2 separate regions of the Homo sapiens genome follow, and region 2 is linked to region 1. Evidence: fine-mapped expression QTL. A gene starts in region 1. The other region holds a variant in brackets. All regions are shown on one strand. Distances are between the middles of the regions. Region 1 holds the start of MAPT (microtubule associated protein tau). Region 2 holds the start of LINC02210-CRHR1 (LINC02210-CRHR1 readthrough).

Region 1 (8,595 bases):
CAGCAAAGCCAACAAGCCCCTTCCCCAAATCGTCCAAAGGTGAACCCAAGAGCCAAGCCAGGTTATTGCTATATAAACATCTGTTAGAGAAGCAAACTTGGCCAAGGAATGTATGAGCTTCAAGAGTCACTCCGGACCTGCGTAGCAGGGGTGGGGGCAGGGGATACACTTATCTGTTTATCCATTAATTTGTTTACGTAGAGGGAGGATTTGGAGATGCTTATACAGTAAATATAAGCAGCTTATACAGTAATTATAATACAATGCTTATACAGTAAATACAATGCTTATACAGTAAATATAAGCAGCCATCACAAAACACAAAATGACACCCCAGAATCAACCGCGGTAGGAAAGACATTTCCCTGTCTCCTGTAGGATGGGTCAGTTAAGGGGCCGAGGGGGATCAGATAGAACTCAAATTGGTCCTGCTGAGCCTGGAGCCTGAGCACGCAGAGGGGTGAGCTAGGCAGTCGCTGTCGGAGCCCCCATCATCCCTTCCAGCCTGGACCATTCTGAGACGGAGGTTTGGAGTTACAGGTGTGTGAGCGCCAGAGGGTGAGAGGGGTCACTCGCTCGGAATGTAAGAGCTCCCGCCTGCTGGGAATGGGGAGGAGTCGTCGATGGCCCCAGGATCCGTGCCCAGACATTTCCAGAGGCGCACCGGCTGGTTCAGCACCCCACCGTCATCCGCGCAAAAGCTGCATCCCTCGAGGTCCTGGAGGGAAGCCATTTCCTTAAAGCGCGCGCAGAGCCAGGATAGAGTTTCCTACGAAGGACCGTCCCCCTGAGGTTCCTCCATTAACAGCGCCCCCGGCCTTGCCCACCGCAGCGGCCCCACCAAAGCGCCAACACATTTCAAAATGGAGCGAAATCGCAGAAGCGCGGAGTGCGCTTTGTTCCCAGCATTGGGCTAAATGCGCTCATCCCCACCGGGCTCCCTTTCCTCCAAAGGCAGGAGGTGACATCTCTGCTCGCGAGATGGCAATACGTAGCCGTGGCCGCGGGCTCCCCTTTTCCGGGGCCACCCCGAGACCCTCGCTCCATCTGGAAGGGGAACCCCGCGCCCAGCTCTGTCTGGGGGCGAGGGAGGAGAGACGATGCTTGAATCGATCCCTGAGCCGCTCTGCAACCCCTCGCGGCGGGCCCAGCCATGCGAGGAGCCTCGCAGTACCCAGGCTCCAGCCCTCTACGCCACCGTCAAGGAGGGTCGGCCTGGTCCCGGGCGGGCAGCCAAGCCATTCCCCAGAAATTCAGATCAACCTGGGCGACCCGCGTGGAGGATTCAGCTCCTAGATGCTCTTCCGTCTCAGAAGTGCGCCCCCCGCACCAGTTTTCAGCGATAGAATTAACCAGAAAACCGTGCGTACCAGGTTCATCACAGGAGGGCGAGGCATGGATTCGTTGGCCAGGAGTTCCCCCTGCCGCCCCAGACTCGGTTTTGGGGGCGCGGTGAACTTGGACACGGGTGAAATTTATTTAAGATAAATAATATTAATCAGTACGGACATAATATTAATAAAAATACACCCAGGGCCGCCTATCTGCGTGTCTGCGGCCTCCAGGGGCCAATCAGAAACAGCCTCAGGCGCGGGGGTTCGGGGCTTCCTCCCGTGTCCTCCAGGAGGCCGACTGGGCGCGGCTCCCCCTACCCCAGGGTCCCCAATCTCCGCAGGGAAGGGGTGAGGCCAGCCCCAAGATCCCCTCTCCGGACACCTGTGGTTTCCATGGCAATCCCCCCTCTGCGCCCAGTCCAGTGGGCTCAGAAAGATGGGTGTGGCCGAAGCACCAGTAACCTTATGCCCCTTCCTCACATTCTCCGGCCAGGCGAAGCAACAGGGCGTAAAGCCGGAGAGGCCCCGCCAGGGCTCCCCACCCATCCCCGGATGGGTAGCCAGCGTCCCTCGCTGGGCAACCTGGTGTGGCGTGGCCCTCAGGACACTTGGGGTGTAGGGAGGGGCGAGATCCCTCTGCCGCCGCCCGCAGCGCGCACGGAGACTCGAATCCCATCCCTTCAGAAGCTTCCCGGCGCCGGCAGACTCCGAGACGAGGCTGCGCGCGGTCACGCCCGTTCCATGCGTGCCGGGGGTCGGGGGGTTGACTCGAGTTCATCGAACCCAGCAAGCCTCGAGATCCAACAATGGGCTCGGAAATGAGGAGCGAAAAAGGAAAGAGAGGCGCATGGGCGTAGGGGGGAGGTTGACTGAACACCCTCAGAATAAAAGCCAGAAACCAGGGCTGGGAGCGCAGATCACGTAACCTCTACAGACAAAGCAAAGAGCCCCCGAAGAAGGTGCTGGGCGAACGCCCCCAGTGCTCACGCCCGCAGCAGCAAAACGCCAAGATTTCAGCGCTGATTGTCCCCCTCCCTTTAATGCCAGGCCCCGCCCTGTCCTATGAAGCCCGGCCACCCGGTTTGGCATGGCACCGTAAAGACGTGACACGCCGAAAAAAGATGGCACCTCGCGTTCCGAGGGGGAAAAAAAGGGGGGCTGGGGGCGGGAGTGGGAGGAGGCACAGCCTATCCTCCCCCTTCCTCGCCCACCAGGGTCCACACCCACTGCCGCAGTGAGGGGCGAGCCCTGCGCGCCAGCCCCGCGCCTCCGGCAGGGAGCGCACACGCCGGGCGCCCTGCGCTCCGAGCGCTGAGAAAGAAATCCGCCCCGAGATGCACCTGCAGCCCCGCGCCCATCCGTGCGTGGCTGCGGCTGTGCGTGCCCGCGAACGGGGACCAGCGGCCGCCGAGTCCGTCCACATCGCCAGGCCAGGTGAACCCTGCCTTTGCGAGCGTGCACAGTGGGATCCGCGCACTGTTCTCAGGCACGGCGCTGCTCGCGTCTCTGTGCCAGGCGTGCGCAGGGGGAAGGGCAACTAAAGTGACAGCGCGTGGACCCCTCCCCATCTCCTCGATTTCTCCCAGCCCCCAAATGTCCCCTACGGGTTTCTGAAGGAGGAAAAGGGGAGGGGGCCGGCCCCCGCCTAAAATCAGGGGCAGTGAAGGCCCTGTCGGAATCACTGCTCGGGAGGTGCAGGGAGGGGCGTGCAGGGAGTCATCTTTTCTAGAACCCGATCCACGTCTTTCTTAGAGCTGATGGCGAACAGCGGCAGGGACAGCGGATTTCAGATTCGGTTTCGGGGGTCGTTATCGGACCCCTCCACACACACACACACACACACACACACACACACACACACACACGCCCATTGCGGCAAAAGGCTGCAGTCGAGAGTGAAGGGCAGCCCCCTCCCCCAAGTCACCGCCGCCGCGCCCCACCCTGCCGGCACAGCCTCCACCTGGGGTCTGCGCGAATCTGGTGGTGAAGACCCTCCAGCACACACACACGCGCGCACTCACGCGTGCGTGCATCCCTTGCTCAGGTCCCTTTCCAGGCCGCCCTGGCCCCAGCCCCCGAGCAGGGGAGGCAGGGAGGGGCCCTGCGGTGGCCCCGACCGATGCCCGGCGCACGAAGCCCCAGTCTGCGGAGAGGGAGGGCGAGGGGCGGCGGCGCAGGGGTGCACAGAGGCGGACGGCGAGGCAGATTTCGGAGCCGCGGCGCTTACCTGATAGTCGACAGAGGCGAGGACGGGAGAGGACAGCGGAGGAGGAGAAGGTGGCTGTGGTGGCGGCGGCAGAAGGTGGGCGGTGGCAGCGGCGCTGCTGTTGGTGCCGGAGCTGGTGGGTGGCGGTGACTGCGAGGGCGCGCGCCGGCGAAGAGGGCGCGTTCCTGAGGCCGGCGGGCGGCGCAGGCGCGAGCAGCGGGAACGCGAGCCTCCCCAGGGGAGGGGGCGGGCAGCGCGGCCTCCGCGGGAGCCTTCTCCTCCGGCCACTAGTGGGCGCGCGCGAGCGCCCTGCCGCTCGGCCGTCCGGCGTCTCCCGGCTCGTTCCTCTCGGCGCTGCCCTTTCGCGGTCCCCCTCCCGCTACGCCTCAGGCCGCGGCGCTGACCGCAGCGCGCACGCGCGTTCCGTGGCGCACGCGCTTTCTCCACCTCCTGTAGTTGGAGTCTTTGTGTCGTTGCGGGGGTGGGTGTCCTCCTTCGGGCCATGCGGGGTCGGGGCAAGGCCAGTGGCTCCGCCGCTGGGTCCGCTGCCCTTTACTTTCAGTCAGCCTGGGGCGGTGTCCTCTCCTACAGAAGTCCTGAGCGGCCTTCCACGTGGCCGGCCCTCGAGTCCGTCCGCCCCGACCCTTCGTAGTCCCGAAACCGCCCCCCTGGCTAAGGTCTCTTTCCCCCAGGCTGCTTCCTTTCTCCTTGCTTTTTTCCCACCTTTTTTGTTACTGACCAAGGTGAATCCTTTCCTTAACAAATCGGCTTAAAGCAAGCTAACTCAGTTACAATACAGTAGAACTGTACTTAAAAAAAAAGAAACGTGAATCTAACCGTTACGTCAGAAAAAAAAATCTTAAATTAGACGAATTTCAAACAGTGCTTAACACATCGCAGAGCATTTGCAGTTATTTGTATCACGTCTTTTGAAACACCTTTATGCTGTAAATAGAGCTTGAAGTCTGAATGTTTAAGGGCCAGCTAGAGATTGTCCCCTGGAAGACGCACCTCAGCCTGAAACTGACCAGTGGTCCTCATTCTGCTGGTCGCCCAGGCCCCAGGCTTCGGCCTTAGCTTGGATTTTTCATTTCCCCAACATCAAGTTTAAGCCCAAGCAGTGGGATGATTTCTATGTAGGGGGGTTTAGGGCAGCCATCTCCTCCTAGGGAGATGGGAAGTTGTCTTGAAGCTCCAATTTGCATAGCTCTTATATTCTTTTTAAAAAATCAACATATGTTATAGATTAATAGAAAAAGCAAGTAAAATGCTTTATTCACACAGTTTCTGGAACTGACCTTTTTCTCCTTTTTTTTTTTAAATGCATATTAACTTTATTTTTAAACAGAGGGGCATATACCCAAAGAAGTAGGAGTGAGAACCACCATGGGGGCTTGCTCAAAGCAATCTGCCCTAGCCTTCTGACTACAGAATGTCTCATGAGCCAATGGCCTGGAGATGGAGCTGCCCCTTGATGGTGTACACCTTAGAAAAGTCAGTGGAATTGACCTTTTTTTGGAGACAAGGTCTTGCTCAGGCTGGAGTGCAGTGGCACAATCGTAGCTCACGGCAAGCTTGAACTCCTGGGGCTCAAGCAATCTTCCCACCTCAGCCTTCTGAGTTGCTGGGACTACAGGTGGGCACCACCACACCTGGCTAACTTTTTTTTTTTTTTTTTTTTAGAGAGGAGGTCTTGCAGTGTTGCCCAGGCTGCTTTCTAACTCCCACCTCAGCCTCCCAAAGCGTTGGGATTACAGGCATGAGCCACTGCACTCAGCCTGGAATTGACTTTTTGTTGTTGTTGTTCTAACTGCCACCATCCTAGTTCAAGACCTCTATCTTGGTTCTGGACATGTAGGGACCTTAGTGATCTCCTTGCTCTCCAGTTTCTCCCTATATCAGCCCACCCTGCAACCCCTAGTTAGATCAGTATTCAGAAGTGATCATTTTATTTATTTATTTTTGGTTTTTTGTGTGTGTTTGTTTTGTTTTTTTGAGATGGAGTCTCGCTCTGTTGCCCAGGCTGGAGTGCAGTGGCACGATCTCGGCTCACTGCAACCTGTTTCCCGGGTTCAAGCGATTTTCCTGTCTCAGCCTCCCAGCTACTGGGATTACAGGCATATGCCACCACTCCCGGCTAATTTTTGTATTTTTAGTAGGACGGGATTTCACCATGTTGGCCAGGCTGGTCTCGATCTCCTGACCTCAGGTGACCCAAGCTCCTCAGCCTCCCAAAGTGCTGGGATTACAGGTGTGAGCCACCACACCTGGCCCAGATCATTTTAATTATGTCACTCTCTTGCTCAAAAATATGTAAAAGCTTCTAACTGCCTCCTAAATTAAGTTCAACCCCTTAGTTTAGCTTTCAAGTGTCCCCCCAATGCCCCAACCCCCCATCATCTGAGCCCTTGTCCTCCCATTTTCTTTCCCACCTACTCTGTAGCCAGCTGAAGTGGCTTGACTAGAACTCTTTTTCCACCTCTGTAATTCTGAGGTTTTCCTTTGCCTACAAAGGTCCTTGTTCTTTCTTCACCCACCAGTAGTCTACCTAACCTTCAAACTCTAGCTCAAATTTTACCAAAGCCTTCCCTAATCACCCCAACTGGAAGGGACATTTCCAGTCTCTAGAAGGAGTTCAGCAAAATTACTCTTCTTCTTTCTGAAAGTGGGAAGGGGGTGCAGTCAATATCCGTCTTGCAGCATTGAAATGTGGTTATTGTCCCCAATAGTGTCCCCTTTTTTTGGTGTGGGGATTATACATACTTGTCCATTACCATTTACATGATGTAGACATTCCAAATAGGCGCTTCAAGAGCATTGCAAGGTTCTACCACTTTTACTCTTCCTTTCCGCCACCAGAATGGCGTGGCTCCAGAGAGCTGTTCCTTCAGCTTAGATCTCAGGAAGGAAAAACTCGAGGAAGTACATGTCACATGAGCAAGAAATAAACATTTGGGGCTGGGCGCAGTGGCTCATGCCTGTAATCCCAGCACTTTGGGAGGCTGAGGTGGGTGGATCGCTTGAGGTCAGGAGTTCAAGGCCAGCCTGAGCAACATGGTGAAATCCCATCTCTACTAAAATCACAAAAATTAGCCAGATGTGGTGGCGCGTGCCTGTGTTCCCAGCTACTCGAGAGACTGAGGCAGGAGAATCGCTTGAACCCAGGAGGCAGAGGCTGCAGTGAGCCGAGATTGCACCATTGCACTCCAGCCTGTTACAGAGCAAGACTTGGTGTCAAAAAAAAAAAAGAAATAAGCATTTGTTGTGCAAGCCACCGAGATTTGAGGAGTTGTTACCACAGCGTCCTGTATCCTGATTGATACAGGAATTAAATGAGGTGTGTGTGTGTGTGTGTATAAAGTTTCTTACACAACATCTGACAAATAGTCATTAAACTATCATACTATTATAAATACTATACTATTATACTATTATAAATACTAGTTATTTCATTATCATCTTTGTAATAATGCTTTTGCTACACATTATTTTATTTCTATACGTAAAATAAACTGTAGCAGTCAAATCAACACTCGTCTACATTCAAATTTCACATTTTTCCCCCTCTAAGATAACAGTATAATTGAGAACTGACAGGGACCTAATGACAGTATGGTCCCCTCACACTGAATGGTCACATTTGCCTAAATTGAAATAACGTATGCTAGAAACAATCTTAAGCAGATCTGTCATTTTAACTATATGTGATGTAGAGTTGAATGTTCATTCCAGATAATTTAGTCAATGTAGGTAACTAATGGCTCACACTAATTCAGGCCAAGAAAATGCATTCCCTCTCTTTCTTCCTGTCCCTTTCTCTTGCTGAAAGAGAAATCTCATGGCCGCATATGTTATACAATCATGCCCACTTATGTAGGATCACAGAAGGCAGAATAGCAGAGAAGAAAGAAAACTGGAGAGTTGGGTCCTGATCCTAGCCATCTTGTATGACCTTAGACAAATTCATTACCTTCTCTGGGTTTGCAATTCCTTTATTTAATGGTGTTCCAGATGCGGTTAGGACTGAGATCAATGTATCTATAGAATTTGGAGGCTCTGCCACTAAATCTATTCACAAAGCAAGCTAAACTGTTGTAATAAATAGACCCCAAAACACAATGGTTCAAACCAACTCTTCGAGCAGTCTTGGGTGAGTGATCCAGGTTGGTAGCCAGCCTTCTCCGTGGAAGGTTTGGGACTCAAGCTCCTTCCATTTGCAGCCTACACCACCCCTGAGGGACTTGTTGTTTGCTTGCTTGAGGCAGGGTCATCATTTAGAGTCTCCAGTTGGGAGGAAGAGAAGGAGCTTATGGAGGAAACACACTGGCTGTCTTAGAGGCTGGAAGTGGCATCTGATCATGTTCCACTGTTAGAACTTAGTCACATGGCCATCCCTAAGCGCAAGGTATACCAATGTATGTAGGAGAGTTGTGGGCCCAGGAAGAAGAGGAGAAAGGATTTGGGTGGAACCTAGGCTGTGCCATATATACTTTTTATGTGGGGGTGGGGGGATGTGGTAAAAAGAACCTGGGAAAAGAACCTGAACTTGTCTATCATGAGATTCAGACATATGTGAATAGGCTATGATGTGGGAGGTGGGGAGAGAGGTAGAGAACTAGCAGAGAAGGAGAAAAACCAGATTTTCAATTAAATGCATGAGAGAGAAGTCATCATTGGATACTTCTGAATCAGAGAGTATTTAACCTTTTTTATATCGTGGCACCCTATGGCAATATGATAAAAGCCCTGTCTCAGAAGAATATTTTCAAATGCATAAAATAAGATCTATAAGATTATAAAGGAAACTCTTATGTACAGTTATCAAAATATTTAAATGTCTGTGATATCGTATGTGATGGACATGGAGATGGAGGTGTGCCGCCCAGATTCCCCTATAGGGAAGGACTTGTTCCAGCCACTGGGAGTGCTGTTGGCAGACAGGCTTCAGCCCTCTGTCCCTTCAGGGATTGTCTCGGCTGCAAGAGTCACCTTGTTGCAGGGAGACCACGTTGAGTGACTGACAGAGGTGGGGGTATAAAGACCCAGTCATGTTGG
Region 2 (8,595 bases), 280 kb after region 1:
ATTATGCTTAAGTTTCAGAGTCAATTCCACATGAAAAGTAAAACCTATTCTTGACTGAAGTACTAGAAACAAATAAAGGACCCTTCTTCCCCAGAGATCGTTAAAAGCAGACCGAGCAACTTAATTTTGAGGGTGGGAGGAAGGTAAATTTGCCTGGAGGCAGGAGGATGGACTAAATGACCTCTGGTAGGATCCTCGTTCAAGTCCTGGGCCTGTATACAATTCCAGCTTAACCAGTTACTGCTTCGCTTAAAATGGAGGCTTGCCCGCGTAGGGACAAAAATAACAGCACCCACTTCTTAAAAATAAATGTCGAAAAGTACCCCTTTTTAAATAAAAATAAAAAATAAACACCTCTGGAGTGGATGTGTTCTTGCTATGCGTTTGTCACTGAGGCTTCGAAGACTTGGCATCACTTTCCTTACCGCTCACCGGATTTTGGGGGAGGAGCGGGGGGCGACAGTTTGACTCTTGACCCAAGTCTCAGGCGGACTTCAGAGCCCCACAGGGGCCCCCAACTCCAGAGCCAGAGGGAGCGGAGAGGCGAGAGCCCGAGATCGCACCTCCCCCCACCGCGGACCCCAGTCCCAAACCCACCCCTCACCTCCCCGCAGTGGGGCGCCTCCTTCTGCCCCATTCCCATTGTTAGGGAGGGCAGAGCGCGGGGTGGGCTCAGGGCAGGGGCGCCCGCGGCCGCTGCCCGGCTCGCTTCAGGAGGGGCGCCCCGCGGGATGCGGCTTCCCTTCCTCTCCGCGTCGGTCCGTCCCACCTCGGCTCGGCCTGGCGCCCCGAGCTCCGCTCCGCGCCCCCGGCCGCGGCCCCGGCCCGCCCCCCGGGCAGCCAGGCCCTCAGGCCACTCGGCCGGCAGCCCGCGTCCCAGGCCTACGAGTGGGCGCTGGGCGGGCGTCCCCGTGCCCCACACACGCGTCCCCTCTCCCCCAGCCCCGCCGCTTCCAGGGCCCTCGGCGGCGCCCGCTCCCCGGGCCCCGCGGCCCCCCGCCTCCCAGCCAGGCCGCTCCCTCGAGCTCGTCGGGTCAGGGACACCTCCTCTACCTCACCATCACCCTGGCCCACTCGTGCCCCCACCCCCAGGGGCACCAGTGCCAAAGGCAGCTCCCCCAGCCCCGGACCTACCTGCACGGTTCAACCAAGCCTAGAAGTGGGGGCGGGGAATCTTCCGCCCTCCTCTGGCGCTCATTGGCCCTTCAGGGGCACATCGTGAGCGCCATTGGCTGAGCAATGGTGTCCGTCAGAGCGATGGGGCGGGACAGAAGGGGAAGAGGGATGCAGGTGCCTTGGCGTCTCTGTCTCTGTGCATCTCGTTGTCTCTGTCTCTGTCTCAGCCCTTGGAAACGAGAGGCTTTTGGCTGAGAGGACTAGAAGGGGGCCTGAGGTGGGAGGAATAGGAATAGGAATCCTGACAGAGCGTCACGCCAGTTGGCAACTCTGAACCCCCTACCTAAGTCCCCTTTAGGTTCTCTTCTCCATCACCCCCAACCCCTGCCCCTCACCCCTCGAGATTCTTTCATCCAGGAAGCGACGTGATGAAAACTCCAGGCCGGAAGGCCATAGGGAGAGATGTTATATATGTATATAAAATATACACATATAAATGTTTATATATAAACTCAACCAGATATCAGTTCACTAGGGCCTGGAAAGGAAAGGGCACACATCTCACAGACAGGGAAGGACTTGAGATAGAGCCGGTAGAAGAAGGAATCAAAAATCACTCTAAGAGCTGGCAACAGTGGTTACCTCCTGGGAGAGGAACTGAGTGCCTAGGGAACCAGTGGGCGGAAGACTTACATATCTCGGCATATCATTTGTATCCATTGATTTTTGCACCACTCATCAAGATTCCAATTTAAAGAAAAGGATTTAAATGTTTAAATAAGGTCGCAAAACCAGGGGACAGACAAGATAATTGGGCAGGAAAATTGGCGCAACATGCAGATTTGGGGAGGAATCTTAGCTTTTAATATGTTCAGTTCCCGGTAACAGGGTTTTGTAAAACCCAGTGAAGGTGTCCCAGAGGCAACTGAAGTTATGGAACTTGAGAAAGGGTAGACAATCAGGACTAGAGAAGATGCAGGGTCCTCTGCCTAAAGATAGTGATCTATGACATGCTAAAGGATAAACTCCCAAAGAAGGGTAATAAGACACCCACAGTAAAAGGTAGGAGGACGAAAAAGAATGTCAGTGAGGTAAAAGAAACAATATTAAAGAGGCATGAAAATTAAGGGAGGAAGGGTCTGTGGAAAATAGAATAATAAAACTATGAGAGAGGCCGGGCACGGTGGCTCACACCTGTAATCCCAGCACTTTGGGAGGCCAAGGTGGGTGGATCACCTGAGGTCAGGAGTTCGAGACCAGCCTGCGCAGCATGGTGAAACCCGATCTCTAATAGAAATGCAAAAAAAAAATTAGCCAAGCGTGGTGGCGCGCCTCTGTAATCCCAGCTACTGGAAAGGCTGAGGTGGGAGAATTGCTTGAACCGGGAGGCGGAGGCTGCAGTGAGCCAAGATCGCGCCACTGCACTCCAGCCTGGGCGACAGAGCGAGACCCTGTTTCAAAAAAAAAAAAAAAAAAAAAAAACTGTGAGAGCCTCATAGGTCTTACCTCTTTACCTCTTTAGGCTCTGGTAACCATGGGACAATAAGAATGAAAGCCAAGGCCGGGCACGGTGGCTCACGCCTGTAATCCCAGCATTTTGGGAGGCCAAGGTGGGCGGATCACAAGGTCAGGAGATCAAGACCATCCTGGCCAACATGGTGAAACCACGGGCATGGTGGCGCATGCCTGTAATCCCAGCTACTCGGGAGGCTGAGGCAGGAGAATTGCTTGAACCAGGGAGTCAGAGGTTCCAGTGAGCCGATATCACGCCACTGCACTCCAGCCTGGATGACAGAGTGAGACTCCGACTCAAAAAAAAAAAAAAAAAACCAAAAAAAAAAAAAAAAAAAACCACCTTTATCGATTAAGAATCTTTTTTCTGAGTTTATTAATTCTATTTAAATCAACCCCAGAAAACACCTTCAACACAGCCTCTCATTTCATATCTGTAAAATGGGGCAAAAAAAATAGTTCCTACCCTTTAGAGTTGTTGTGAAGATTAAATTAGTGAATACATATGATGGATTTTTTTTCTTTTCTCTTTTTTTTGAGACACAGTCTCGCTCTGTCTCCCAGGCTGGAGTGCAGTGGCACTATCTCAGCTCACTGCAAGCTCCGCCTTCCGGGTTCACGCCATTCTCCTGTCTCAGCCTCCTGAGTAGCTGGGACTACAGGCGTCCGCCAGCATGCCCGACTAATTTTTTGTTATTTTTAGTAGATACGGGGTTTCACCGTGTTAGCCAGGATGGTCTCAATCTCCTGACCTCGTGATCCGCCCGACTTGGCCTCCCAAGTGCTGGGATTACAGGCATGAGCCATGGCGCCCGGCCTGTGTGATGGATTTTTTAAGAGCCTGACTGGCGGGGTGAGGCGGCTCATGACTGTAATCGCAGCACTTTGAGAGGCTGAGGCAGGTGAATCACTTGAAGCCAGGAGTTCGAGACCAGCCTGGGCAACAGGGCGAGACCTCGTCTCTACAAAAACACACACACAAAAATTAGCTGGGCATGATGGTGCATGCCTGTAGTCCCAGCTACTCAGGAGACTGAGGTGAGGGTCGCTTGAGCCTGGGAGGCAGAGGTTGCAGTCAGCCGAGATCTCACCACTGCATTTCAGCCTGGGTGACAGTGTAAGAACATGTCAAAAAACAAACAAACAAACAAAAACAACAACAACAAAAAAACGCACGAAAAAAACCACATAAGCTCCTTGAGGGCAGAAACTGTCCCCTAGTCTTCTATATTTTATTTCACACAATGTACAGAAGACTAAATGAATAATTGTTAGCTGGTTTTTTTTTTAAAAGGGGATAAGATCAGTTACAATGTCTTTTTCCTCAGTCAATCACATAAGTATCTAAAATGACATTCCAAAGTAAGGACAGGAGTTTAAATCCTGAACTATGGTATCTAAAGTAAACTTGAACTTTCCTTATTTTTAAAAAATTTTGGCCGGGCGCGGTGGCTCACGCCTGTAATCCCAGCACTTTGGGAGGCTGAGGCGGGCAGATCACAAGGTCAAGAGATCTAGACCATCCTTGCCAACATGGTGAAACCCCATCTCCACTAAAAATACAAAAATTAGCTGGGCGTGGTGGCACGGACCTGTAGTCCTAGCTACTCGGGAGGCTGAGGCAGGAGAACCGCTTGAACCCGGGAGGAGGAGACTGCAGTGAGCCGAGATCACGCCACTGCACTCCAGACTGGCGACAGACTGTCTCAAAAAAAAAAAAAAGAAAGAAAAAGAAAAAAGAAAAGAAAAAAATTCCATACATAGAATTCTGTGTGGCATTTTAGAGAAAATCATGGTGACTAGAGACACCAGGTGAAATTTTTTTTTTTTTTTTTTTGGTGACACAACCCCAGGAGATCCTGTGAACATGTGTCCCTTGACCAGGTGAATTTCAGGAGCTTGCACTAGTCCCAGGTTAGCTGGCACCAGGTTGGCCCTAGTTTGAGTGCCTTCCACATACCAG[G/A]TACTGTGTTGGAGAAGTACATCAAAAAGGAAAATCAAATTTCATCCTCAATAAGTAATCACAATACACTGTGATGAGAGTTAGGGTGAAGGAGGTTCAGGTTACCATGGGCTTATATTAGGAGGGCAAATTCTGTCTTCAAGTCTTTTTGCTTCAACAGTAGCGTTTAGATCTTGTGGGCTGGGCATGGTGGCTCTAGCCTGAAATCCCAGCACTTTGGGAGGGTGAAGTGGGCAGACTGCTTGAGCCCAGGAGTTGCAGATTAGCCTGGCAACATGGCGAAACCCCGTCTCTACAAAAAATACAAAAGTCAGCCAGGCATAGTGGTGCCTGCCTGTAGTTTCGGCTACTTGGGAGGCTGAGGTAGGAGGATCGCTTGACCCCAGGAGTTCAAGGCTGCAGTGAGCTACCATCGAGCCACTTCACTTCAGCCTGGGCCGCAGAATAAGACCCTGTCTGAAAAAAAAAATCTTGTGATATAATAACAGCTTGTGCACTCTTCGATAGCTCAGCTGGTAGAGCAGAGGGCTGTAGACTGCATAGATAATAATAACAGTTTGCGTTTTTGAGTCAAAGATGATACCCCAGAATCATTATCGAAAATAATGGTTGTTCCATTCACCTGTGCCTATGACTGTGAGCCACATTGTGACCAATCTGTGAGCAACATGGGTGGGAATGCAGTTTGGGGCCATGGAACTCACTTAACAGGAAGTTCCAATAGCAGTGGATTTACCATGTTGCAGCTGTAGGATCTTGGACAAATATTTAATGACCTCTGTCTCTCAGTTCTCTCAATAATAAAACATCCATCCGAGAGTTGCTGTAAAGGTTAACATAGGGGGAGTCTTGCAAATAGTAGGTGCTAAGATCCTGTCTTGAAAAAAAAAAGAAAAAAAAATATATATATATATATGAAGAGATGAGATCTTCAATTGTATAGACTGTCCCTGTACCCATTCATTTGCATTTCTTTTCCTTTACAATAATACATATCTATGATTTCCTTTTATTCCCACTGTCATCAATTTAGTTAGATTACTGGGCAGAGATCACCAGTGGGGCTAGAGTAAAATGAAAATAAATGTACATTGACTCTAGGTATTCCTAAGTAATAGCACAGTTTACTGTGTTCTCCCTCATAAATCCTGGTAGCTGAATGTTGCCTGCTTTTAGCAGTTACGTTTCTGCTCATCTCACCCTCAATGTTCATTAAGAAAATAGTTATTGAATGGCCAGGCTCACTGGCTCACGCCTGTAATAGATTACAGGCGTGAGCCACCGCACCCAGCCTTGGTTATCATATTTCTAATTTATAATAGTTTTCCTTGTTTTCTTATTGTTCATTTTTTATAGCATCCTGTTCTTATATTATGCATATATATCTTCAGGTCTCGCTGAAGAAATAAAGAGGTGTATGTGTATATGTGTGTGTGTATTATCTTTATTTTTATTTTTTGAGATGGAATCTTACTCTGTCGCCCAGGCTGTAGTGCAGTGGCGCTTTTGGGAGGCTGAGGTGGAAGGATCACTTAAGGCCAATATTTGGAGACCAGCCAGGGCAACATAACAAGACCCCCATCTCTACAAAAAAATTAAAAATTAGCTGGCCATGGTGGTGAGTGCCTGTAGTCTCAGCTACTTGGGAGGCTGAGGCAGGAGGATTGCTTGAGCCCAGGAGGTTGAGGGGGAGGTGAGCCATGATTGAGCCACTGCACTCCAGCCTAGGTGACAGAGTGAGACCCCTTCTCTAAAAAAAAAAGAGAGAGAGAGAGAAATAAAATAGTTATTGAGCACCTACTGTATGTCAGGTCCAAGACCCTAAAGATGTAAAGATGAATAAGGTGGTGACCCTGCCTTCCAGTTTCCACAGAGGTGGGGAATATGGATAAAAGCAGACAAAGCCATTGCCATGGGATAAGGGCAGAGAATAGCATGTGCAAATTATAGAAGGTGAGGGATAATATACCATTTTCCAGAAACTGATGGTTCAATGAGGCTAAAGCATGGAGTTCAAGAAAGGAAACCAGATGAGATTAACTGCAATGTGGTTCTCAAACTTAAATGTGCATAAAAACTGGCCTTGTTGGCTGGGCACAGTGACTCACACCGGTAATCCAAGCACTTTGGGAGGTCAAGGCGGGTGGATCGCTTGAGGTCAGGAGTTCGAAACTAGCCTGGCCAATGTGGTGAAACCCCATTTCTTTTTTTTTTCTTTTTCTTTCTTTTTTTTTTTTTTTTTTTTTTTTTTTTTGAGACAGAGTCTCGCTGTCGTCCAGGCTGGAGTGCAGTGGCGTGATCTCGGCTCACTGCAAGCTCCGCCTCCTGGGTTCACGCCATTCTCCTACCTCAGCCTCCCGAGTAGCTGGGACTACAGGCACCCGCTACCATGCCCGGCTAAATTTTTTGTATTTTTAGTAGAGACGGGGTTTCACCATGTTAGCCAGGATGGTCTCGATCTCCTGACCTCGTGATCCGTCCGCCTTGGCCTCCCAAAGTGCTAGGATTACAGGCGTGAGCCACCGCGCCCGGCCTGAAACCCCATTTCTACTAAAAATGCAAAAATTAGCTGGGTGTGGTGGTGCACACCTATAGTCCCAGCTGCTCAGGAGGTTGAGGCGGGAGAATCACTTCAACCTGGGAGGTGGAGATGGAGTAAGCCAAGATCAAGCCACTGCACTCCAGCCTGGGTGACACAGCGAGACTCTGTCTCCAAAAAACAAACAAACGAACAAAAAACTGGCCTTGTTTACATAGTCTCGCAAGCTCCAAGCCTAGAGATCTTGATGGAGCGGGTCAGAGTGCTGCTGCTCTTAGGGCTACACTCTGAGAACCACCGATGGAGAAGAAGGGCGGGGTCAACTTGCAGAGCTGTGCTGGGAGGTGTGTGCTGCAGCCTTGAGGAGGTGAAGAACCTTTGAGAGGTTTTAAGCCTGCAAGAGATGTGGTCACATTTACATTTTAGAAAAATCACCCTGTGTGCAATATGAAAAATGAAACAGAGAGGGCAAGACTGGAGTCAGGGAGAGCAGTTAGGAGGCTGCTGCAGAAACCCAGGCAAGAAATCATAAAGACCTGAAATAAAACAATGCCAGTGGGGAACGGGGAGGAGAGGCCAAATCCAAGGGGTATTTAGGAGCCAGAATTGAGAGGGTGTGATGAGTGTTGATGGGATACAGGACAGGATCCTGAGATGGCTTGCAGGTCTTCAGCTTTGAGTGACCCATGGAAGCGAAGGAAGATGGGAAGGAGGGTGCCTATCACACAGAGAGAATGAAGGTTTGAGAGGCAAGTGTAGCTTTTGACATTTTGCTTTTGAAATGTCTATGGGACATCAGAAATAATCTCAAAAGACCACAAGTCAGGCAGGGCGCGGTGGCTCACGCTTGTAATTCCAGCACTTTGGGAGGCCGAGGTGGGCAGATCACGAAGTCAGGAGCTCGAGACCAGCCTGGCCAACATGGTGAAACCCCGTCTCTACTAAAAATTCAAAAATTAGCTGGGCATGGTGGCGGGCACCTGTAATCCCAGCTACTTGGGAGGCTGAGGCAGGAGAATCACTTGAACCTGGGAGGCGGAGGTTGCAATGAGCTGGGATCGAGCCATCGCACTCCAGCCTGGGCAACAAGAGTAAAACTCTGCCTAAAAAAAAAAAAACCATGAGTCACTGGTTAACAGCCTGAGCAGCAGAAATCTCACAGTTCTGAGTCTGAATCCTATCTAGCCTGGCTCTGAAACTCACAATCTGGAGCTGGGGCTTGGTGCAGTGGCTCAGGCCTGTAATCCCAGCACTGTGGGAGGCTGAGGCAGGTGGATTGCTTGAAGCCAGGAGTTTGAGAGCAGCCTGGCCAACATGGTGAAACCCCATCTCTACTAAAAATACAGTTAGCCAGGCATGATGGTGTGCACCTGTAATCCCAGCTACTGGGGGGCTGAGGCACGACAATCGCTGGAGCCCAGGAGGCAGACGTTGCAGTGAGCCGAGATTGTGCCACTGCACTCCA

What was found. PIP is the estimated chance that this variant, and not a neighbour inherited with it, causes the effect. A credible set is the group of variants that fine-mapping cannot tell apart.
Region 2: its variant is the best candidate, but not a certain one, in a credible set for the expression of MAPT in testis (GTEx, PIP 0.62).

The regions. Positions count from the first base shown.
Region 1 is chr17:45,889,653-45,898,247 of GRCh38, reverse strand. It overlaps MAPT (microtubule associated protein tau), which reads right to left and starts at 3,694. Exons shown (of 13, transcript NM_001377265.1): 1 at 3,562-3,694. MAPT-AS1 (MAPT antisense RNA 1) reads left to right here and starts at 2,735. Exons shown (of 2, transcript NR_024559.1): 1 at 2,735-2,768. MAPT-IT1 (MAPT intronic transcript 1) reads right to left here and starts at 2,465. Exons shown (of 1, transcript NR_024560.1): 1 at 1-2,465. RefSeq lists enhancers at 209-1,093, 1,980-2,865, 2,866-3,751.
Region 2 is chr17:45,612,912-45,621,506 of GRCh38, reverse strand. It overlaps LINC02210-CRHR1 (LINC02210-CRHR1 readthrough), which reads right to left and starts at 1,161. Exons shown (of 15, transcript NM_001256299.3): 1 at 1,135-1,161. LINC02210 (long intergenic non-protein coding RNA 2210) reads right to left here and starts at 1,178. Exons shown (of 6, transcript NR_138260.1): 1 at 1,135-1,178. RefSeq lists an enhancer at 2,045-3,024. The variant G/A (reference allele first, on the strand shown) is at 4,592.